Linked DNA regions of Homo sapiens. The protein of the gene in region 1 interacts with the protein of each later gene in a pairwise test. Each region holds a gene or a part of one and is shown in the gene's direction. Other genes may lie near its edges.

Region 1 (12,394 bases):
GGCTGGAGTGCAGTGGCGTGATCTTGGCTTACTGCAATCTCCACCTCCTGGGTTCAAGTGATTCTCGTGCCTCAGCCTCCCAAGTAGCTGAGATTACAGGCACGCACCACCAAGCCCGGCTAATTTTTTGTACTTTTAATAAAGACGGGGTTTCAACATGTTGGCCAGGCTGGTCTCAAACTCCTGACCTCAGGTGATCTACCCGCCTTGGCCTCCCAAAGTGCTAGGATTACAGGCATGAGCCACCATGCCCAGCCTTGTTTGTTTTTGCTCTCACAGGCTGGAGTGCAGTGGTGTGATCTTGGCTCACGGCAGCCTTGAACTCCTGGGCTCAAGCGATCCTCCTCCTGCCTCAGCCTCCTGAGTAGCTGGGACGACAGGTGTGCACCACTATGCCTGGCTAATTTATTTTTAGTAGTGACGGGGTCTTGCTATGTTGCCTAGGCTGGCCTCGAACCCCTGAGCTCAAGTGATCCATCTGCCTCAGCCTCCCAAAGTGCTGGGATTACAGGCGTTAGCCACTGTGCCCAGCCCTCCTTTATTATTTACTGGGGTTCTTCTACTTGCTGCTGCAGAGTGGCTAGAAGATCCTCCCCAGAGTGGTCCCCCCAGCCCACAGCCATCCTCCCATCTTGCTGGCAAACAGGCTGTGTTCTCTCTGCCTCCCTGCACCTCCCTCATGCTGGAGTGAGCTCCATCTTTCCTTCTCCCAAAGTCCGTCTCTCCATCCTCCTCCCCACTTCTGGAGGAGATCCCAGGATTGCACCATTCAGTCCCAGCCTCTCTCCTCTTGAGACCGGAGCAGGAAAAGGAGCCACTCACACCAGGACTTTTGAGTTTTCTTCCTACTGAATATCCTATCGTCCATACTAAGGAAGGAAAAGACTTTTCTTGTGTAATACAATCTGCCCCAAGGTAGCCTTATGTTATTGAATAAAAGGCAAGGATGGGCCGGGTGTGGTGGTGTGTGCCTGTAATCCCCACTATTCGGGAGGCTGAGGCAGGGGAATTGCTTGAACCTGGGAGGAGTAGGTTGCAGTGAACCGAGATCCCACCACTGGACTCCAGCCTGGGCGACAGAGCGAGACTCCATCTCAAAAAAAAAAAAAAAAAAAAAAAAAGCAAGAGTGATGCCTTCTTCCACCCTTGAGGTTTGTTCAAATCCAGCCGACAGGAGTTCCCTGAGGTTACTGAGGAAAACTCAGGGGTCAGTTCCCTAAGGGCTGCTCTGGGCACCTCAGCAGAGATGGCTGGGGCTGCCTCGGGGCCTTAGTGCAGCGGCACCACTGCATCCAGAGATTCATGCCTCTTGTGGCTCAGCCAGCCCCCAGGGGGATGGGAGGTAGAAGGGGCTTGTTCTTCCAGTTATACAGTAAGAGCGGGCTCTCTCGGTGGGCGGGTGGCCCCGTCTGTGGCCGCATTCCCTCCCCTCCCCAGCAATACTCCCTGGCTTCTCTGGCTGAGGCTGCATCTCATCCGCAGGTGGGGGTGAACTCAGATGACTCAGATGATGGATAGTGGGCCAGGGTGGGCCCCCATGACCTGTGTATCTACAGGAAGGCCCACCTGTCCTTTGGCTTCAGCTTCTGTTTCCTGACTTATAGAGAGAGGTGGCATAACAGCTCAAGATATGGGCTCTGGGGTCAGGCAGCCCATGTGCATGGCTGCTTTGCTGTGTGATCTTCAATAAGTAGCTTGCCCTCTCTGTGCGTTCATTTCCTCTTTCATCACATTGGGAATAATGATGAGTACCTCAGGGAGTTATGAAAATTAAAACTAGTTAACTTGTATAAAATTGTTACCATGACAACTAGAAGAGAGGTGATAGATAAATGTTAGATATTTTATCATTATTATTATTACTTGTTTGTTTTCTGAGACAGAGTTTCACTCTTGTTACCTAGGCTGGAGTGCAATGGCGCGATCTCGACTCACTGCAACCTCTGCCTCCCGGGTTCAAGTAATTCTCCTGCCTCAGCCTCCCAAGTTGCTGGGATTACAGGGGCCCACCACCACGCCCAGGTAATTTTTGTATTTTTAGTAGAGATGGGGTTTTGCCATGTTGGCCAGGCTGGTCTCGAACTCCTGACCTCAGATGATCCACCCGCCTCAGCCTCCCAAAGTGCTGGGATTGCAGGCGTGAGCCACCGCGCCCAACCTGATATTTTATTATTTTTAAAGTGATGATTATTCCTAATTCCTGAGACGTGTCTCTCTTTCAGCGTCTTCCTATCTTTTTGGCCACATCTCTCAGTGTGTTCCCAGCTCTCTCCTACTCTCCATCTACCCACTTCTGTCTGTTCTTCTCTTTTGGCCTCAGTCTTTCTGTGACCTTGGTAAACTACTTACCCTCTCTGTGCCTCAGTTTCTCCATCTGTCAAACAAAGTTCATAGCAGCATCTACTTCTTAGATTTTTTTGAGGAATACATTTGTTATTGCATTTAAAATACTTAGAAGAGGGCCAGACATAAGGTAAGTTCTTGACCTCCTTACAATTAATTTAACATATTCTAAAGGTTAATTAATAGTAAGCTACCATTGTTGTCTGTTGTTATTTTCTCTCTCCGTCAGCCTTCATCTCTCCCTCTCCTGTCTGTCTCTCTCTATTTTTGTATCTCCCTTTATCCATCCACTCAACACATCTGCAGTGAATAGTTTTTATCAGTGAACATAACAGACACCAGCCCTGTCCCCAAGGGGCTCCCACACTAATGAAAGAAACAGCTACTAGAAAAATAAACACACAAGACGGGCGCGGTGGCTCTCGCCTGTAATCCCAGCACTTTGGGAGGCCAAGGTGGGCGGATCACCTGAAGTCAGGAGTTTGAGACCAGCCTAGCCAACATGGTGAAACCCCATCTCTACTAAAAATACAAAAATTAGCCAGAATTGGTGGCAGGCACCTATAATCCCAGTTACTGGGGAGGCTGAGGCAGGAGAATCGCTTGAACCCGGGGGGCGGAGGTTGCAGTGAGCAGAGATCGCACCACTCTACTCCAGCCTGGGTAACACAGTGAGACTCCATCTCAAAGAAACAAACAAACAAACAAAAAAGAAAAAAAAAGAAAAAGAAACACATAATAATACGTGTATACATTGTACCAAATTCTCTAAAGGAGCATGTAGGATGCTATAAGATGAAAAAACAAATAGGGGAGTGAAGACCCTGAATCAGACTAGGGGAGGGCTCAGGGAAGGGCTCTGAAGAAGTAACACTTGAGTTGAGACACAATGAAGAGAGCGAAGGGAGAAGTGTTGGAAGCGCATGGAAAACAAAGACAGAGCAACATGAGAGAAGACAGGAGGAAAGTGGAGACAGAGAAAGATAGACAGAGACAAAGGTGCAGAGCCACAGACAGAGAGACAGAGACAGAGATGGGAGGAGAGAGACACAGAGAAAGATGGACAGAGACAGGTGCGGAGACACAGACAGAGAGACAGAGACAGAGATGGGAGGAGAGAGACACAGAGAAAGATGGACAGACACACAGGTGCGGAGACACAGACAGAGAGACAGAGACAGAGATGGGAGGAGAGAGAGACACAGAGAAAGATGGACAGAGACATGTGCGAAGCCACAGACAGAGAGACAGAGACAGAGATGGGAGGAGAGAGAGAGACACAGAGAAAGATGGACAGAGACACAGGTGCGGAGACACAGACAGAGAGACAGAGACAGAGATGGGAGGAGAGAGACACAGAGAAAGATGGACAGACACACAGGTGCGGAGACACAGACAGAGAGACAGAGACAGAGATGGGAGGAGAGAGACACAGAGAAAGATGGACAGACACAGGTGCAGAGACAGACAGAGAGACAGAGACAGAGATGGGAGGAGAGAGACACAGAGAAAGATGGACAGACAGGTGCGGAGACAGACAGAGAGACAGAGACAGAGATGGGAGGAGAGAGAGACAGAGAAAGATGGACAGACACACAGGTGCGGAGACACAGACAGAGAGACAGAGACAGAGATGGGAGGAGAGAGAGACACAGAGAAAGATGGACAGAGACAGGTGCGAAGCCACAGACAGAGAGACAGAGACAGAGATGGGAGGAGAGAGAGACACAGAGAAAGATGGACAGAGACACAGGTGCGGAGACACAGACAGAGAGACAGAGACAGAGATGGGAGGAGAGAGAGACACAGAGAAAGATGGACAGACACACAGGTGCGGAGACACAGACAGAGAGACAGAGACAGAGATGGGAGGAGAGAGACACAGAGAAAGATGGACAGACACAGGTGCAGAGACAGACAGAGAGACAGAGACAGAGATGGGAGGAGAGAGACACAGAGAAAGATGGACAGACAGGTGCGGAGACAGACAGAGAGACAGAGACAGAGATGGGAGGAGAGAGACACAGAGAAAGATGGACAGAGACAGGTGCGGAGCCACAGACAGAGACAGAGATGGGAGGAGAGAGACACAGAGAAAGATGGACAGACACAGGTGCAGAGACACAGACAGAGAGAGAAGGCAAGGTGAGACAGAGACAGGAGGAAAGAGAGACACACAGGGGCAGACAGAGACAGACAGAGATCAGAGGGTCACAGACAGAGGTCAGAGGGAGAGCGAGAGAGAAGGGATCAGAGAGAGAAAGGGACAGGGACAGGGAAAAGAGAGACAGAGACAGAAACCTGCCAGGGCTTCCTGTTCTGTGGTCCCAGCCTATGTCCCGTCCTGCCCAGAGTTATCTGGGGGCGCACGGGCCCAGGACAGAGTTGGGGGAGGGTCTCACTTGGGATGCTTCCAGTCTGGCAGGTGAGAGAAACAGAGACAAGGGGGAGAGAGACAGAGATGGGACCAGAGAGGCAGAGGAAAAGAGAGCCAGAGAGAAAGAGAGACAGACACACGGGGTGGGCTGTGGGGGAAAGAAGTAAGGAAGGAGAAGGAAAGAGTGTTAGAGACCCAGGAGAGACAGAGAGACACAGAGACATTCCTGCCTCGTCGCGGTCACCTGCGGGCACTATCCCTCACCCGCGCCGGCTCCGCGGTCTACACCCACCCACTCCTTGGATGATCTCACCCGGCCTCGTGGCTGTAAACACCACCTCTCCCCTGATGAGTCCCCGCTGTTTCTCGGCAGTCCTGACCTCGGCCTGCCCCTCCGTGCACCCTCCGCGGTCTACGGCACCCTCTCACCCCCCACCCCCCTTCCCGCACCTATGCGTCTCCACAAGATCCGTAGAGCGCAAGCCAGCAGACCAAGCCTCCACGCCATCCTTGGCCCCTCTGCTCCTGGCCCCCCACTTTCCATCCATCGGGCAGTAACTTGGCTCCACATGCAGAGGGGACCCCGTGTCCATTCACCTCTCTTCTCCCTTGACCCCGTCACCTCCCACCTGGGCTGTTGCCACTGCCCCCCGCCCCGCCCCCACCATCACTCTCCAAGCTGGAAGTTTTTAAAAAGTAAATAAGATTATGTCACTCCATCCTCGTGCTTAAAATCCATTGCACTTAAGTAAAACCCAAGCTCCTTAATCCTGGTACGTAAACTCCTGCAGGCCCGCCCGGTTCCCGGTCTGCGCTCCTACCCGCCCTGCCCTCCTACCCGCCCTGCCCTCCTCTGGCTGGAGCCAAGTTCTCCCCTGCACCCCGCAACCGCCCCTGCTGCGGCGACCCTCCTCCTCCTCTTCCCTGGGATCTCAGCTTAAATGTTCCCCTTCTCTGAGTCTCCCCGACCACCACCTTATATGCTGGTCCCTGCAGTTTTCCTTTATGGTCTGTGCCCCCGGGTAGGACGCGATCCCCAGTGACGAGGACTTTGCTGGTTCCTCCTGTGGCCCCAGCACCTGCCGCAGAGCTCGGAGTGTGGTAGGCACTCAGCTGCTTTTCACTGAGCGAAGACTTTTTAGTTCTCCCGCTCACCGAGAGCCTACAATGTGCCTGGCACTGTGTGCCTTTCCCTGAATTACCTCTTTGAATCCACTTGGGAAATGGGGCATAATGGTCACTCCAGTTTTACAGTTGGAAAAACAGGCTCACAGGGGTGCAGTCACTTGCCCAAGGTTCCAAAAATAGTTCGTGATGTAGGCTGGATACGAACCTGGGGAAATTTGCTGGAGAAGCACAGAAAGAGAGGGATGAAGGAGGAGGGGAGAGAGAGAGAGAGATTTAATTTAAAAAGAGAAAGAACATGAGAGAGAACAGGAGAGAATGAGAGGAAATGAAAGAAAACACGAGAAAAATAATGAGAGAGAGAATGAGAGAAAGAAAGAAGAAGAGAAAGAGAAAATGAGAGATACAGGCAAGAGAGAGGTATCTCATGAGAGAGAATAAGAACATGAAAAGAGAAAGAATGAGAGAGAGAGAGAGAAAGAAAAAGGAGAGTGGAGTCTAGGATCTGGGCAGGGGTCTCCTCCCTGGGTCCCTAGACCCTGCTGCCAGCCCCTTCTGGGCCCCCAACCACTGCCTGGTCAGAGTTGAGGCAGCCTGAGAGAGTTGAGCTGGAAGTTTGCAGCACCTGACCCCTGGAACACATCCCCTGGGGGCAGGCCAGCCCAGGCTGAGGATGCTTATAAGCCCCAAGGAGGCCCCTGCGGGAGGCAGCAGGCTGGAGCTCAGCCCAGCAGTGGAATCCAGGAGCCCAGAGGTGGCCGGGTAAGAGGCCTGGTGGTCCCCCACTAAAAGCCTGCAGTGTTCATGATCCAACTCTCCCTACAGCTCCATGTCGCTGGATTCTCAGCCTCTGTGCCTTCTGTCTCCACATCTCTCTAGACAGATCTCTCACTGTCTCTAGTTAGGAGTCACTGTCTCTAGTTAGGGGTCTCTCTGTCTCTCTGAATCTATATCTCCATGTCTAACTCTCAGACTGTCTCTGAGGATATCTCTCAAGCACTCTGTCTCTCCGGCTCTGATTCTCTGTGTGTCTTCCCTCCATGCTTGTTTGTGGGTGGCTAGACACCATCTCTCCCCATTCACAGATGGCTAGATGCTTTCTCTAAACTTTCCTTTCTACCTAGTTCTCTCTCTCTCTCTCTTTTCCCATCTCTCTCTCTCTTTTTCTCTCTCAGTCTCTAAATCTGTCTCTCTAGGTTCTGGGTCCATGGATGGGAGAGGGGGTAGATGGTCTAGGCTCTTGCCTACCTAATAACGTCCCAGAGGGAAGAAAGGGAGGGACAAAGAGAGGGATGGAGAGACTTGGGCTGAAGATCCCCAGACACGGCTAAGTCTCAGTCCTCATCCCCAGGTGCTGACGTGATGGCCACAGCAGGAAATCCCTGGGGCTGGTTCCTGGGGTACCTCATCCTTGGTGTCGCAGGTATCTGAGTATGCGTGTGTGTGTCTGTCCGTGCTTGGGGGCACAGTGTTTGTTAATGTTCAGGTGTGACTCAGTGTCCTCTTGCTTGTGACTGCAAAGCTGCCTGTGAGACGGTACCGTGTTATCCGTCCCCCATGGCTGTGCCCCTGCAACTCCTTGTATCGTGGTAAATTTGTGTGTGGCAGTGTGCCTGGGTGTGTGGTTGTACCTGTGAGACTCTGACAGTTTGTGCCTCTGAATATCTGGTGGAGTGACAACAGTGTAATGATGATATGGGGACAGGGGAAGCCGAGGGTGCAGGAGATTGTGCTTCCTGGGGCGTGATCCATTGCTGGGAATCTGTGCCTGCTTCCTGGGTCTTCAGTCCTGAGATCCCCCTCTCCCATCCCCAAGGAACTCACCTCACAGGACTATAAAACGGTGTTTTGGTGTGCATGGGCTTGTGGCTTGGTGTGACTGTGGGCAAGGCTGGGAGAGGATAGGAGTGACTCGGCGCAGGACCGACTCTTTGAGCATCAGTCTGCGCAGACAAGTGACCCGATCCTTGCTCCCAGCAACAACTCCACCCCCTGAGCTTTAATTCACCCCGAAGGACCCGATCCTACTGCTATGAGCCTAGACTCCTCTGTTGAACCCCTCCTGACCGTGGCTTTGCACCGCGATGGCACCAGTCTCACCTCCAGAGCTCACCCCAGAGCCCTGACTCCGCCCCAGAAGCCCTGGTCCCACCTTCTGAGACTGCCTCTAGCCATAACCCAGCTCTTGAAGCCTTGATGGCGCCCCTGCGCTGTAACCCCAACCCTAGGAGCACTGATCCCGCCTTCTCAGCCCACCCCCATGCCCTGACTCTCCTCCCAGGAGCCCTGACTACCCTGAATCCCTGACCAGGCTCCTGCACCGTGATCACCGCCCCTGGGAGCCCTAGGCCTATATCCTGGACCAGCCCCTGAAGCTCCGATCATGACCCCTGCACCATAACCCCACCCCCAGGAGCCCTGGGTCCGCCCCCTGGGCCCGCCCCCAGCCCTGACTCGGCCCCCCAAGAGTCCTGACTGCTCCTGAAGCCCTGACCACGCCCCTGCTCGGTAACCCCTCCCCCAAGAGCCCTGGGCCCGCCTCCTGAGCCCGTTCCCAGCCCTGACTCCGCCCCGAGGAGCCCTGACTGCTCCTGAACCTCTGACCACGCCCCTGCTCGGTAAGCCCACCCCCAGGAACCCTGGGCCCGCCTCCTGGTCCCGATCCCATCCCTGACTCCGCCCTCAGGATCGCTCGTCTCTGGTAGCTGCAGCCAAATCATAAACGGCGAGGACTGCAGCCCGCACTCGCAGCCCTGGCAGGCGGCACTGGTCATGGAAAACGAATTGTTCTGCTCGGGCGTCCTGGTGCATCCGCAGTGGGTGCTGTCAGCCGCACACTGTTTCCAGAAGTGAGTGCAGAGGTAGGGGGAGTGGGCAGGGCCTGGGTCCGGGGGCGGGGCCTAATATCAGGCTCATCTTGGGGTGCTCAGGGGGAAACAGCGGTGAAGGCTCTGGGAGGAGGACGGAATGAGCCTGGATCCGGGGAGCCCCAGAGGGAAGGGCTGGGAGGCGGGAATCTTGCTTCGGAAGGACTCAGAGAGTCCTGACTTGAAATCTCAGCCCAGTGCTGAGTCTCTAGTGAACTAAGGCAAGTTCTTGTCCCTGAATTTTTGTGAATGAGGATTTGAGACCATGGTTAAGTAGCTCTTAGGGTGTTTAGCGAAGAGGGTGGGGTTGGGGTTAGGAGATGGGGATGGGAATGGGGTTGAAGATGAGAATGGAGGTAAGGATGTAGTTGCCACAAAACTGACCTGCCCTCCGTGGCCCACAGCTCCTACACCATCGGGCTGGGCCTGCACAGTCTTGAGGCCGACCAAGAGCCAGGGAGCCAGATGGTGGAGGCCAGCCTCTCCGTACGGCACCCAGAGTACAACAGACCCTTGCTCGCTAACGACCTCATGCTCATCAAGTTGGACGAATCCGTGTCCGAGTCTGACACCATCCGGAGCATCAGCATTGCTTCGCAGTGCCCTACCGCGGGGAACTCTTGCCTCGTTTCTGGCTGGGGTCTGCTGGCGAACGGTGAGCTCACGGGTGTGTGTCTGCCCTCTTCAAGGAGGTCCTCTGCCCAGTCGCGGGGGCTGACCCAGAGCTCTGCGTCCCAGGCAGAATGCCTACCGTGCTGCAGTGCGTGAACGTGTCGGTGGTGTCTGAGGAGGTCTGCAGTAAGCTCTATGACCCGCTGTACCACCCCAGCATGTTCTGCGCCGGCGGAGGGCAAGACCAGAAGGACTCCTGCAACGTGAGAGAGGGGAAAGGGGAGGGCAGGCGACTCAGGGAAGGGTGGAGAAGGGGGAGACAGAGACACACAGGGCCGCATGGCGAGATGCAGAGATGGAGAGACACACAGGGAGACAGTGACAACTAGAGAGAGAAACTGAGAGAAACAGAGAAATAAACACAGGAATAAAGAGAAGCAAAGGAAGAGAGAAACAGAAACAGACATGGGGAGGCAGAAACACACACACATAGAAATGCAGTTGACCTTCCAACAGCATGGGGCCTGAGGGCGGTGACCTCCACCCAACAGAAAATCCTCTTATAACTTTTGACTCCCCAAAAACCTGACTAGAAATAGCCTACTGTTGACGGGGAGCCTTACCAATAACATAAATAGTCGATTTATGCATACGTTTTATGCATTCATGATATACCTTTGTTGGAATTTTTTGATATTTCTAAGCTACACAGTTCGTCTGTGAATTTTTTTAAATTGTTGCAACTCTCCTAAAATTTTTCTAATGTGTTTATTGAAAAAATCCAAGTATAAGTGGACTTGTGCAGTTCAAACCAGGGTTGTTCAAGGGTCAACTGTGTACCCAGAGGGAAACAGTGACACAGATTCATAGAGGTGAAACACGAAGAGAAACAGGAAAAATCAAGACTCTACAAAGAGGCTGGGCAGGGTGGCTCATGCCTGTAATCCCAGCACTTTGGGAGGCGAGGCAGGCAGATCACTTGAGGTAAGGAGTTCAAGACCAGCCTGGCCAAAATGGTGAAATCCTGTCTGTACTAAAAATACAAAAGTTAGCTGGATATGGTGGCAGGCGCCTGTAATCCCAGCTACTTGGGAGGCTGAGGCAGAAGAATTGCTTGAATATGGGAGGCAGAGGTTGAAGTGAGTTGAGATCACACCACTATACTCCAGCTGGGGCAACAGAGTAAGACTCTGTCTCAAAAAAAAAAAAAAAAAAAAGACTTTACAAAGAGATGCAGAGACACTGAGACAGATAAACAAGCCACAAAGGAGACAAAGGAGAGACAGACAAACAGAAACAGACAGACCACAAGCCCAAGAGAAGCAGCCAGCATTCAGGACATAGGACATCGGGAAGCAGGATTAGATGAAGTCAGGGATCTGGAATGGGACTTCCAACAGATATGTTGCTGGGCTATGTTGTTATTGATGATGGTTCTGTCTTTGTTTCTCAGTCTCATTTAGTTCCTTTCTGAGCCCACATCCATTTCCACCTCTCTGTGTTTTGAATTCTGACTCTCCCTCTCTTCACAACAGGGTGACTCTGGGGGGCCCCTGATCTGCAACGGGTACTTGCAGGGCCTTGTGTCTTTCGGAAAAGCCCCGTGTGGCCAAGTTGGCGTGCCAGGTGTCTACACCAACCTCTGCAAATTCACTGAGTGGATAGAGAAAACCGTCCAGGCCAGTTAACTCTGGGGACTGGGAACCCATGAAATTGACCCCCAAATACATCCTGCGGAAGGAATTCAGGAATATCTGTTCCCAGCCCCTCCTCCCTCAGGCCCAGGAGTCCAGGCCCCCAGCCCCTCCTCCCTCAAACCAAGGGTACAGATCCCCAGCCCCTCCTCCCTCAGACCCAGGAGTCCAGACCCCCCAGCCCCTCCTCCCTCAGACCCAGGAGTCCAGCCCCTCCTCCCTCAGACCCAGGAGTCCAGACCCCCCAGCCCCTCCTCCCTCAGACCCAGGAGTCCAGCCCCTCCTCCCTCAGACCCAGGAGTCCAGACCCCCCAGCCCCTCCTCCCTCAGACCCAGGGGTCCAGGCCCCCAACCCCTCCTCCCTCAGACTCAGAGGTCCAGGCCCCCAACCCCTCCTTCCCCAGACCCAGAGGTCCAGGTCCCAGCCCCTCCTCCCTCAGACCCAGCGGTCCAATGCCACCTAGACTCTCCCTGTACACAGTGCCCCCTTGTGGCACGTTGACCCAACCTTACCAGTTGGTTTTTCATTTTTTGTCCCTTTCCCCTAGATCCAGAAATAAAGTCTAAGAGAAGCGCAGGTTCTGTTTGTAGTGTCCTCCTTGCTTCCCCTTCCATTCAAGAGATTCCAGCAAATGGCTTTCCCTCCATGGGTCGCATTTCCCTATCTGGGAAATGCGAGCTTTGACCAGGAGGGCCACAGAGTTTCAGAGGGAGGGGCCATTCCCTGGATAGTTAAGAGAAACCAGTGCCATGGATGTTGTCCAGTTTCTGAAAAGTCAGGTCAGCAAATGGTAACCGTAGAGATTTTCTTGCTTAGTTTAACTATTCAGCTTTAGTTGATCTATATTCATTTTTGTCTTCTTAACTGCATTTCAAGAATTTTTAATTTGCATGTGTCTCAGAAGTTGGCTGCTGCAGCTAGAGTCTAGTGGGGAGAATTGTGGCGAGGGCTACTGTGAGTGACAGCAACAGAGACCAAGGAGTAGAAAGAGGGAAGTTTGAGGGGCACAATGGGGCAACTGAGGGGCAAGGAGATGGGAGACTGAATAAGTATATAGATAATTTGAACAGTATGATTAACATACTCTATTTAATGGTCATATATGGAATGTTGCACCCAGTATCTGAAAAATATAGAATCATTTCAAAAGACATACAGCTACCAGAATGGCTAAAATTGAAAAGAATAACAGCATCAAGTCTTGGTTATATCTACAGCAGCTGTAACTCTCCTACATTGCTGGGGGTAGGGGGTAAAATGCTACAACCATTTTGGAAAACAGCTTGGCAGATTCTTAGAAAGACAGGCATACATCCACATGACGGCTAGCAATTCTACTCCTAGGTATTTAGGTAATAGCCATAGAAAACACTTC
Region 2 (12,378 bases), on another chromosome or scaffold:
TACAGTATACACACATATTTATAACTTTCTCTATGTAATCATCTGTATATATGGGTCAGTTTTTTTTTTTTTTGAGATGGGGTCTCGCTCTGTTGCCCAGGCTGGAGTGCAGTGGTGCAATCTCGGCTCAGTGCCAGCTCCGCCTCCCGGGTTCACGCCATTCTCCTGCCTCAGCCTCCCAAGTAGCTGGGACTACAGGTGCCCACCACCACGCCCGGCTAATTTTTTGTGTTTTTAGTAGAGACGGGGTTTCACCGTGTTAGCCAGGACGATCTCGATCTCCTGACCTCGTGATCCACCTGCCTCAGCCTCCAAAAGTGCTGGGATTACAGGTGTGAGCCACCGCGCCAGGCCAGGTCAGTTTTTTTTTTTTTAAGTCTACCTGTTACAGATATATATTATAATATTTACAGCTGAAATTATATGGCTAAGATTTGCTTTTAGAAACTTCAGCAATCCGGCTGGGAGTGGTGGCTCATGCCTGTAATCCCAGCACTTTGGGAGGCTGAGGCAGGCAGATCACGAGGTCAGGAGATCGAGACCATCCTCGCTAACACGGTGAAACCCCGTCTCTACTAAAAATATAAAAAATTAGACGGGCGTGGTGGCGGGCACCTGTAGTCCCAGCTACTCAGGAGGCTGAGGCAGGAGAATGGTGTGAACCCAGGAGGTGGAGCTTGCAGTGAGCCGAGATAGCGCCACTGCACTCCAGCCTGGGTGACAAAGCAAGACTCTGTCTCAAAAAAAAAAAAAACAAACAAAAAAAAAACAAACTTTAGCAATCTCTGGTTGTCTAGCGGTTAGGAATAAAAGTTGAAGAAAAAAAAAACCCAGCAAAACAACAAACTAGGACAATGAAATACAATTGACTAAGATAGTCATTGAAGCAGGATGCCAGGTACACTGGGGATTCACTCATTATACTGTTCTCTCTACTTGCATGTATGTTTGAAATATTCCGCTGGGCACAGTGACTCACGACTCTAATCCCAGTACTTTGGGAGGCCGAGGCAAGTGGATCACAAGTCAGGAGCTCAAGACCAGCCTGGCCAATATGGTGAAACCCCATCTTTACTAAAAATACAAAAATTAGCTGGGCATGGTGGCATGTGCCTGTAGTCCCAGCTACTCGGGAGGCTGAGGCAGAAGAATCGCTTGAACCGGGAGGCCGAGGTTGCAATGAGCTGAGATAGCACCACTGCACTCCAGCCTGGGTGACAGAGCAAGACTCAGTCTTAAAAAAAAAAAAAAAAAAAGAAAAAGAAATATTCCATAATACAAAATAATATGACTGGGTGCAGTGGCTCATGCCTGTAATCCCAACACTTTGGGAGGCCGAGGTGGGCAGATCACAAGGTCAGGAGTTCGAGACCAGCCTGGCCAACGTGATGAAACCCTGTCTCTGCTAAAAATACAAAAATTAGCTGGGCATGGTGGCATGAGCCTGTAATCCTAGCTACTCAGGAGGCTGAGTCAGGAGAATCGCTTGAGCCTGGGAGGCAGAGGTTGCAGTGAGCTGAGATCGTGCCACTGCACTCCAGCCTGGACAACAGAGCGAGACTCTGTCTCAATAAATAAATATGTACATACATACATACACATATAAAATAAGAAAATAGAGCCAGAAAACCCTCACTGACCAGGCTGCAGTTAAAGAGGGTCAAATAGAGAAAGACAGCCAGCCAGATACAAGGCATTAACACACATGCACATACAGGCACACACACAAGCATACATACATACACGCACATGCATACACACACATATACATACAGACGCACACACGCATACACACAGGCACACACACATACACACACACATACACACGTGTCCATACACACACAAAACTCTTCCACAGCCATCTTTAGGTGAAATTTTGAAGATGAAAGTTTTTCTTCCATGTTTGGACCCATCTGCCCTTTCAGAAACCGCAACCTTATTGCTCTACTGCTTCCTAAATCTGCTTTTGGAGGGAAATCTGATCATTTGAAATATTTCCTGTGACTGAAAGTCAAAGTGTGGTCTTCTTAGGAATTTACATTTCTGTGTCATCTTTGATGGGGCAAGAAGTTGCATTGTTTCTGGCTTAGGAATTTCAGGCAGTGGGTGTTTGACAGGGACAGCAACAGTCCCCAGCACATGTGGAATTACACATATAGGTAATGTTTCTACCAGTCCCAGAGGTTTCTCTAAGGTGAGGAACATAGTCTGTGGCCTGCCCCATCCCCCCATCCCTTGAGTGGAACTTGCCCACTCTCACCTCTTTTTTTTTTTTTTTTTTTTTTTTTTTTTTGAGACAAGATCTCGCTCTGTAACCCAGGCTGGAGTGCAGTGGCACCATCTCAGCTCACTGCAGCCTCCACCTCCCGGGCTCAAGTGATCCTCCCACTTCAGTGTCCCAAGTAGCTGGGACTACAGGCATGCGCCACCACATCTGGCTAATTTTTGTATTTTTGGTAGAGACAGGGTTTCACCGTGTTGGCCAGGCCGGTCTTGAACTCCTGACCTCAGGTGATCTTCCCGCCTCAGCCTCCCAAAGTGCTGTGATTATAGGTGGGAGCCATCACGCCTGGGCAACTCTTATCTCTTGAGACAGTAGTTGGGAAAGAACAGGTCTTTGGTTATATGACCAGTGAGACTGTCATGATCCTGCAGCTCACCATGGTTTCCTCTTGTTTCCCCCACTCTAGGGGTGGGGCAGAAGGCCTTAACTCTGAAAAAGCTGAAACAGCTGCTTCTTCAGAGTGCCGGAAGTTGGTAGCAGAGTGCCCTGCTTCTGTGGACAATGGTTTTTATCTCCAGGTTTGTCTTCATCTTCTCTGGATCCTTGGCCTCCTTGAACAGTTCTGGGTCATAAAAGGCTGAGAGTGGGCAGAGAGTTATTTTACTAGATTAGTGAGATGCTGTGCCCAACCTAGTCCCATCCATAATCAGGGGCTGCCGCTGGCCCTTCCTCTCACTCAGTCTTCCTCCACCCTTGCGGCCCCTTCTTACTCCTCTGGAATAGAGTATAGCTGCTTCTGGTTCTGTTCTAAGGACAGGAACTCCTGGGACAGCCACTCCCGCATTAGGTCAAAAACATTTCCTGTTGATTTTATTAGTTTCCTTCCAAACAATGCATTTATGGAAGAAGAAGAGCTTTTGCAGGCATGCATTTGCACAGGCAGCCAACCTCCTCCAGTCACACACAGACACACACACACCTCCACACCCACACGCACACACTTTCTTCCCATCCGCCCACAAAGCATCAGTCACATTTAGAATTTGCACAAATGCACACCCTCCCTCATACATCACAATGCACACCCTCTCATCCACCTACATGTCTCTTCCACAAAATCACACCTGCTCACATACCCTTAGAAGCACATTCCTGTACTGTGCCCAGAGAGAGAAAGGTGGGGGAGATAAGCAAGGAGAATGGGTTAGAAGGGCTCAGGAGGTCAAACCTCTGTAGGAGCTGAAAAGTCAGAAGACCAGGACCCCCCACTCCTCTCTGCCCTTTTTTTTTCTTTCTTTCTTTTTTTTTTGAGATGGAGTCATGCTCTGTCGCCCAGGCTGGAGTGCAATGGCGCAATCTCGGCTCACTGCAACCTCCGTCTCCCAGGTTCAAGTGGTTCTCCTGCCTCAGCCTCCTCAGTAAGTAGCTGGGATTACAGGCAGCCGCCACCACATCCAGCTAATTTTTGTATTTTTAGTAGAGATGAGGTTTCACCATGTTGGCCAGGCTGGTATCGAACTCCTGACCTCATGATCCGCCTGCCTAGGCCTCCCAAAGTGCTGGGATTACAGGTGTGAGTCACTGCTCCCGGCCTCCTCTCTGCCCCTGTAAGTAGAAATACTACGGCTGGGCAAGGTGGCTCATGCCTGTAATCCCAGCACTTTGGGAGGCGAAGGTTGCAGTGAGCCGAGATCACGCCATTGCACTCCAGCCTGGGTGACAAAGCGGGACTCCGTCTCAAAAAAAAAAAAAAAAAAAGAAATACTATGAATTGAGAGAGATTTAGAATTAGGGGTAGGGGAAGCAGGAACTCAGGGCCCCCTGTCCCACACAGAAAGTGTGCTGCCTCTGTGACAGTGATGTATCTCAGGCTGGTGGCTGAGGTGGGAAGTTTGTCAAGGCTGTAAGTGGCATCCATCACATGTCCGAGAAGCCCATTTTGACCAGTAGAAAAGGATGGCCTTTAGGGTGGGATTCCCTATCAGCTCAGGAAATGGTGCGGAGGGAATGAAGAGAGATAAGGAAGTAAAAGGCTGGGTTGGGCTCTGGGTCCAACATCCTCTAGAATGAATCTTACTAATGTCAGCTGGAATCAAGAGGAGGAGGCTCCCCTTCACTGGAAACTTGAAGTCCCCCTCAGAGAAAAGGCGGGAGAGAGGGCTTGGAAAAGTGACAAGTGCCCAAGAGCAGCCCAGGCAATTCTGCCTTCGGCCCCAGACTATTGTCTGCCTGCCCTGACTCAGCCCAAACTCAGAAACTGTGGATTCTGGAAAGTAACGAGACTTTTCCTTTGGGAAAGGGTCCTGAAGCTGACCCACAGTGCTCAAGAAAATTGGCAGAGAGGCCAGGCACAGTGGCTCACACCTGTAATCCCAGTATTTTGGGATGCCGAGGTGGGCGGATTACCTAAGGTCAGGAGTTTGAGACCAGCCTGGCCAACATGGTGAAACCCTGTCTGTACTAATAATACAAAAATGAGCCGAACGTGGTGGTGGGCACCTGTAATCCCAGCTACTCATGAGGCTGTGGCAGGAGAATCGCTTGAACCCATGAGGTGGAGGTTGCAGTCAGCCAAGATCGCACCATTGCACTCCAGCCTGGACGACAAGCGTGAAACTTCATCTAAAAAAAAAAAAGAAGAAGAAGAAGAAGAAAGAGAGGAAGAGGAAGAAGCAGAGAAGAATAGGAGGAGGAGGAGGGGAAGGGGAAGTGGAAGGGGAAGGGGAAGAGAGGGAGAGGAAGAAGAAGAAGAAAGAAGGAAGAAGAAGGAAGAAGGAAGAAGAACATAATTGCCAGAGAGCTCAGTGAAACAGAGACAGAGGAGACGGAAGTGAGCCACACACTCTGTGTCCTCGCCTCACCAGGAAACTACTAAAGTTCCTGGGGAAGCAAAGTAGAATTTCATAAGAACAAAATGGATGGAGAGGAGAAAACCTATGGTGGCTGTGAAGGCCCTGATGCCACGTATGTCAAATTGATATCATCTGATGGCCATGAATTTATTGTAAAAAGAGAACATGCATTAACATCAGGCACGATAAAAGCCATGTTGAGTGGCCCAGGCGTTTTATGGGTTTGGCTTTTAAATTTAGGTCTTTGGTCTTAAGTTAATTTTTGTTTATGCTGTGAGGTCAGTTTGCTGAGAACGAAACCAATGAGGTCAATTTTAGAGAGATACCTTCACATGTGCTATCGAAAGTATGCATGTATTTTACCTACAAGGTTCGCTACACTAACAGCTCCATCGAGATTCCTGAATTCCCAATTGCACCTGAAATTGTACTAGAACTGCTGATGGCTGCGAACTTCCTAGATTGTTAAATAAAATAAATTATAATAAACTGTTAACTCTTTTCAGTATGTAATACCTGTAGATCAGTTAGTAACTTTTTCATATATAGCATGTTGCCTGTATGCAGTTTAACTATATAAAGTTCATTGCAAAGCAGATTATCTTGTTTTTTTCATAGCAATCAAAGTTGAAATTTGTTTGCTACATCAACAAATTAAGAACATTTTCACAAACTGAGAAATAAACAAATATGCCAATTAAAAAAAAAAAAAGAAAGAAACAGAGACAGAGATATCTGGCCCCTGCCATCCATGTCTTGACAGTGCCTCATGAGTCTCTCCTCCTGCTGCCGCCTGGGGGCGCCCCCAGCTGGGTCTCAGGCTGCTGCCAGCACTGCTGTTGTTATCATTAGGGTAATTAATAAACAAGCACTGCTGGGGCCAAGTGGAAGAAGAGGCAGGCCCCTGCTGCTCAGGAGAATCCCTGAAAAGATCCAGTGAGCCTGCGGCAACCGGAGCTGAGTGGCTGGTCCCTCCTCTCTACCCAGGACCTCTGGAAGGGGTGTGGGGTGGGCTTCCCCCTGGAGGGAAGGGCAAGGGGAGGAGCACACTTGGTAGGCTTGGTTTGGAACCAGCTCTGCATGTGCCTAACAGGATGTCTGTGGGCAAGGCCACCCTCGTGATTACTGGTTGTGGGGCAGGCTCTGAAGCAATTATTCATTCATTTAACAGGCATCTGCCTATTTATTTATGGAAAGCCTACTGTGTGCAAGGTGGTCTACTAATAATAGCTAATGTTTGACTGGACAGTGTGACGACACAGCCAACTTTCACACCAGGTCCTGGGAAAAGGGGTAGAAGCAGGGGAAGCAACCAGGAAAAATGACAGCCCAAAAAGATACGGGCAATTAGGCTTTGGCCTGTGTAGTGTAGTGGTGGGGATATATATTAGGTAAAACCTGGGGATTACCAAGATCTTGGGAAACTCAGGACCCAAGTTGGAAAACATACGGCAATTGGGGCTGGAGAAAATGGGCATTTTTCAGGTGGGAGGGACTTGGAGATAAAGGCATGGCAATAGGACATGAATATGGGGATTTTGGGTGAATGGCTCAATGAAAGGGAGGCACGAAGGGATGCTAGCCGATCCTGTTGGGGGAGCCCCGGGTCACGGCAGTTTCGGGGAGCCAGATGGATGGGAGTGTCTAGGGGTTGAGGTGCTCTAAGTCCTGAGAGGGGGATGCTGGATTCTGGGATCAGAGTCCGAACAAGAGTTGGGGTGTGGTGGGGGCTGACAGCGGGGTTTTGAGGGAAGGCTCTGGAGGGCTGGGTTAGAAAAGATGCCGGAGCGGGTTTAGGGAAAGGAGGGGCGTGGCCGGGGAGCCCATCCTGGAGGCCAAGCCGGATCCTCAGGTTTGGCCAGGGGGCGGCTGGGGCCGGCGTGCCGGCGGGGCGCCGGCGGGGCCGCGGGGGTTTGCGGCGCTGGCTGGGATTCGCGCTCCGAGCCAGTCGCCGGGGCTCCGCGGGGGGGCGGTGCGAGCTCGGGCTGCGGGCGGGCCGGGAGGAGGCGGCGGCTCCGAGAAGAACATGAATCAGCGGCGGCGACGGCGGCGACGGCAGTGGAAGGAGCGCGGTGGCGCGGGAGCGGCCCCGGGGACCCCGCGCTGCTGACGGCGGCGACCGCGGCCGGAGGCGGGCGCGGGTCTCGGAGGCGGTCGCCTCAGCACCGCCCCACGGGCGGCCCCAGCCCCTCCCGCAGCCCTCCTCCCTCCCGCTCCCTTCCCGCCGCCTCCTCCCCGCCCTCCTCCCTCCTCGCTCGCGGGCCGGGCCCGGCATGGTGCGGCGTCGCCGCCGATGGCGCTGAGGCGGAGCATGGGGCGGCCGGGGCTCCCGCCGCTGCCGCTGCCGCCGCCACCGCGGCTCGGGCTGCTGCTGGCGGCTCTGGCTTCTCTGCTGCTCCCGGAGTCCGCCGCCGCAGGTAGGGGCTGGCACGGGAGGCGGCGGGAAGCGGGGGGCTGCGGAGGGGCGCGGCCGGGGGTCGGAGCCCGGGGCGGGCCTGGCGGGCTGGAGTCGGGGTGGGGGTCCGGAGCCGAAGGCCGAGGCTCGGAGCCGGGACAGGGCACGCTGCGGAGTGCTCGCCGCCAGATCTCCGGCCGGGCCCCCACCCCCAACTTTCTGGCGCTCGGGGCTCTTCTGGCGGGGTGGAAGAGAAGGGAGCGGGGTGTGGGCTGTGTGGTCAGCGGGGAGTGTTTGGGACTGCATTTTCCCGCCTCGATGTTCCCAGCTGTTAGCTCCCTCCTTCCCAGTACTGGGGACCCCATTCTGCCTGCCCCGCACGCGAAGGTCCGCCTCGGAAACCACACGGGCCGGGGCTGGGCACCCAAAGGCCACCCTGATACCATTTAGGTACACAGGGGCTGTGAGGGTGCCCAGTCACAAAAAACAAATGGGCACACTCGAGTTCCTGTGCCCTCAGAGCTTCCTGAAAGCAGAACCTTGGAGAGGATGGGCTGGTGCCAGGTTGCTGGTCTTTGGGAGGGGTTAGTCTTGTGTTCCCACATAGCCACTGAGGCATTTGCTGGTGACAAGAGCGTTCCATGCAGCACGGTGCTCTCCAAGTTCCCACCCCGCACCTCGGGGACTGATGGGCATATAGGGAGCGGGAGGCTGGCCCCCATCCTGTGACTGGTCCTGAGAGGGTGAAGGGAGCAGGGAAGAGCCACAGGCCAGGACAGCGGCCACCCGCTGGCATCTTCTCTTGAGACAGCATTCCTTGCCATATCAGCCTCTCAGGGAAGGGAAGGGAAACGGGGTGACGAGTATTTACAAGCCGAAAGGTGCGGACCTGATGCTCAGGGAGCCCACGACTTTGCCTAGAGTCACACAGCAAAGGGTGAGAAGAAGCAGGGCTGGATTTCAGTTATGTGGATACTTGACCTGCCCCTCTCTCTGCTTAAAAACATGCCAGGAGGCCAGGAGAGGTGCGTGTATGTGTGTGTGTGTGTGTGTGTGTGTGTGTGTGTGTGCGCGCGCGCGCGCGCGCTCGCACGCAAGTTCCAAAGAGTGGCCCCTGTTAATGTGGCAGTGGCTCAGGGGTCTTAGGCTCCCTGCTCAGGGCCCCAGCCCTCCCTTCTGCCTCCCACCTTCCTAGCACTCGCCCCTGCCCACATTCAGGTATTAATAGAGTGGATGGCTGCCAGGAAGGCTGCCATGTGTTTGATCTGACGTGGTTTTGCAGCCATATGTTCTCCACTTCAGGGGAGCACCCCCTCCTTTCCTTCTTCAGCCCTGCTCCATTTGGTAAGGTTGGGTGCAGAGGGTGCTGGCAGCAATTCAGGGTCTGGGCTGACACCTTGGGTGGAGAGCTGGCAGCCTGTTGCACTAGTTGGGTGCAGCAGTCATTCCTAGAGCAGTGCCTGCCCCAGTAGGGTAACTCCCATCGTTTCAGCCCAGCCTGCCTTCCTTTTGCTGTCTGGGCTCAGAAGGAGGACATGGGGAAGAGGTCCTTAGAGCCGGAGGGAACTTGGAGAGCTTGCCATGCCCCTTCCCTTCGCCCAGGTCCAGCGACCTTCCCTTCCACACTGTCCTACCTCTGCTTCCTTGACTTTGGCTGAGAAAGAGCCCTCTGTCTGACACAGAAGCTACCTTCTAGAAGAGAATGGGAACTGTTTACAGAGACAGAGTCCCTCTCAAGGCTGACACATGTTCCTTCCCACCCCTCAGGTCTGAAGCTCATGGGAGCCCCGGTGAAGCTGACAGTGTCTCAGGGGCAGCCGGTGAAGCTCAACTGCAGTGTGGAGGGGATGGAGGAGCCTGACATCCAGTGGGTGAAGGATGGGGCTGTGGTCCAGAACTTGGACCAGTTGTACATCCCAGTCAGCGAGCAGCACTGGATCGGCTTCCTCAGGTGCAGGCCTGTGGGGGAAGGTGTGGGCTGCCAGCCAGGGGGCAGGCTATGCTCTTTCCTTGGGGATTGGGAGCTGGGGCCCTCTCCTGATGCCCAGAGGTCTGTGGTTTTTTTATTTGGCTACCTGTGGGACCTTCCAGAAGTGGGGGCAGGCTGAACTCATCAAGTTTGCCCAGCAGAGCTGCCGCCCTTGCCCTCGGAAGCAAGCCTCGTATCCTGTTTCCACAGCCTGAAGTCAGTGGAGCGCTCTGACGCCGGCCGGTACTGGTGCCAGGTGGAGGATGGGGGTGAAACCGAGATCTCCCAGCCAGTGTGGCTCACGGTAGAAGGTGAGGAGGCAGAGCCATATGGGCGTGTTGGCCTGGAGCACGTGCTGTCTGCTGGTGACTATACCTCTGCAGCGGAGAACTCAGTAGAAGCTGGGCTGCCCCACTGCTCTGTGGGGCCTGGTTGTCCAGGCTGTAGGCCCACTCCAGATGTCGGAAGACCCTACCAGTTGGAGTTGGGTATCTGAGAACCAAGGGACCAACTGGGATCCACAACCTGTGGGGTGCAGTCTGTTTCCGTTGCTTGAGCAACAAGCTTCAAGCATCCATCTGGGACTGGACCCTGTTCTGCCAAGTGGCCTGGCCAGCAGGGGGAGGGGAGGAAGGCTCTGCAGCTGCGGGAGCTCAGAGCTGTTCAGCCCAGGAAAACAAAGTGACTAAGAAAGTAACAAAGGGCCCTGAATGGGAGCTGGGGCCTGGCAGCAGAACTCTGCTAAAGCTCTCACCCACTCCCCTGAGTTTTATGCCCCTCTCCCAGCTCTCCACCCCCAGTCTCCTCTCTTACTGCAAGAAGAGCTGTCCAAATCTGCCATGCCTAAGGGGGCAGCATGGAAGATGTGTCTAAGGTGCCAGGCATGGTGGCGTGTGCCTGTAGTCCCAGCTACTCCGGAGGCTAAGGCCAGAGGATCACTTGAGCCCCCAGGAGTTCCAGGCCAGCCTGGGCAACATAGAGAGACCTCCCCGCGACCAATCTCAAAAAAAAAAAAAAAAAAAAAAAATTCCTAAGGAGCCTGAAAAAGAGAAGCACCGCCTACCTCTCAAGCTAGATGCCTGTTCTGCTGTTGACCTAATCATAAGGGGCCTGTGGGAACCTTCTGCGTGGAGGACTTCAGATGTAAACAGACTTGTGATTTGTACAGTAGGAAGCCAAGAGGTGGCAGGGCTCACTCCTCACTCCCCTTCTCTCCTAGGTGTGCCATTTTTCACAGTGGAGCCAAAAGATCTGGCAGTGCCACCCAATGCCCCTTTCCAACTGTCTTGTGAGGCTGTGGGTCCCCCTGAACCTGTTACCATTGTCTGGTGGAGAGGAACTACGAAGATCGGGGGACCCGCTCCCTCTCCATCTGTTTTAAATGTAACAGGTGAGCAGCCTCAGAAGGGGGCTGGGAGTGGAGAAGGAGCTGGGTCCTGGAGGGCACTGAAGCTGGCAGTTTCAGCCACTGAGCTTGCGGTTGTGAGCGTCCAGAGCAAGCCCCAGTGTCTGGGGACGTGAGCTGCACCATTACTAAGCTCATTAGTCAGGTGTGCTAGGCTGGCTGGGTGGGCTGATTAGTGGTGATCCTGCTGTGTGTGCTTAAGGAGGGTGTGGGGCCACCTTTGGTTCACAGCAGTCCAGGCCATGCACAGCTGGCCCTCAGAGATGAATTGTATGAGACCAGGGGCACCCATCCCCCACCCCTCCCAAGGAAAGGAGCCAGAAACCAGCCCACGCAGAACTAGGGAGGAGTATCTGGCAGACACTGAGAAGACAAGACTCTCAGGCTGCAGAGAGGGGAGAGGAGGGAGAGAGAAGGGGTAGGGGGAGGTTAGCACAAAGATACAGGGCCTCCTCCCCTAATGGCGCTTTCCGGGAAACCTCCACACGTTTTCTCAAACAACTGTGTCTGTCCATACCTCTGCACAGTCACACCTGCACACCCACCTGGGCCCCAAGTTTCTTGGGCACATACCCTCACATGCTTGTAAGGCTTGCTTATTTGTGAAACAAAGGCTTGCTTATTTGTTTCTGGTTGAGGCTTGAATTGGGCAAAAAAGATGGGAGTCTGAGCTTGGTCTCATGTGCTGGAAGGTGCCAGGGAAATGGGCGCTGAGCTAGGTTCTCCAGCAATTTGAATCTTGACAAGAGGTGGACTATGAGACCTCTTGGAAGCAAGTGCAGGTCCTGTTCAGGAGGCGCTGAGTTGGAGCAGATTAGAGAGGAGGTTGGGTTCACTTCCTTCCAGGTGTGCGTGGTTGGGACCCTCAGGCAGGCAGCCTGATAATAAGCACTCACTGAACTCCTACTCCACACCACACTGTGCTAGGCACCACAGGGGACAGAGGGAATACAAAGGAAATAGAAGCTAAAGAACTGAGTATAACTGGGGAGACAAGACATGTGCATAAAGAGCTGAGAACTACTGCAAGGCAGAGAGTCTGCAAATAACAACCCCAAGGGGGCACAGAGCAAACAGAAGGGCTCACTCTGGTATGCGCAATAAAAGAGTGACCAGAAAAGGGGGGCAATTTGTGCTGTGTGTGGGAGATGGGATGGAGGTGGGAGGGTGGTATAACGTTTCTCAAGGGCTTATTTAGCATGCCGTGCACTTGACACACATTACCTGATTCTCACAATTCTCCCATTTGAGAGATGAGAAAACAGAGCCCTCTCCAGGCTCACCAGACTCTAGTGTCCCTGTTCATTTCACCGTACCTCACTGCCCAGCCCCTTCCTTTGGCAGGAGGGATTTAAGGATGTTCAGACCAGAGCCTGAGTATTCCCCTTTCCCAGTCCCGCACTGAGTGGGGTTGCTGCTTGGGGAGCTGACTGAGGTTTTCTGGCCCCAGGGGTGACCCAGAGCACCATGTTTTCCTGTGAAGCTCACAACCTAAAAGGCCTGGCCTCTTCTCGCACAGCCACTGTTCACCTT

The links.
Region 2: the proteins of KLK4 (region 1) and TYRO3 interact in binary tests that used the Homo sapiens proteins (3 or more experiments, as listed by UniProt).

What each region holds. Positions count from the first base shown.
Region 1 is NC_000019.10:50,905,552-50,917,945, reverse strand, and holds KLK4 (kallikrein-4 isoform 1 preproprotein), read left to right. Parts: upstream 1-6,550; 5' UTR 6,551-6,607; intron 6,608-7,196; 5' UTR 7,197-7,207; coding exon 7,208-7,268; intron 7,269-8,531; coding exon 8,532-8,694; exon of another isoform or gene 8,695-8,706; intron 8,707-9,116; coding exon 9,117-9,367; intron 9,368-9,450; coding exon 9,451-9,587; intron 9,588-10,859; coding exon 10,860-11,012; 3' UTR 11,013-11,595; downstream 11,596-12,394. UniProt on the Homo sapiens protein: Has a major role in enamel formation. Required during the maturation stage of tooth development for clearance of enamel proteins and normal structural patterning of the crystalline matrix.
Region 2 is NC_000015.10:41,551,889-41,564,266, forward strand, and holds the start of TYRO3 (tyrosine-protein kinase receptor TYRO3 isoform 1 precursor), read left to right. Parts: upstream 1-7,323; 5' UTR 7,324-7,369; coding exon 7,370-7,493; intron 7,494-8,083; exon of another isoform or gene 8,084-8,408; intron 8,409-9,238; coding exon 9,239-9,422; intron 9,423-9,650; coding exon 9,651-9,751; intron 9,752-10,659; coding exon 10,660-10,830; intron 10,831-12,295; coding exon 12,296-12,378. UniProt on the Homo sapiens protein: Receptor tyrosine kinase that transduces signals from the extracellular matrix into the cytoplasm by binding to several ligands including TULP1 or GAS6. Regulates many physiological processes including cell survival, migration and differentiation.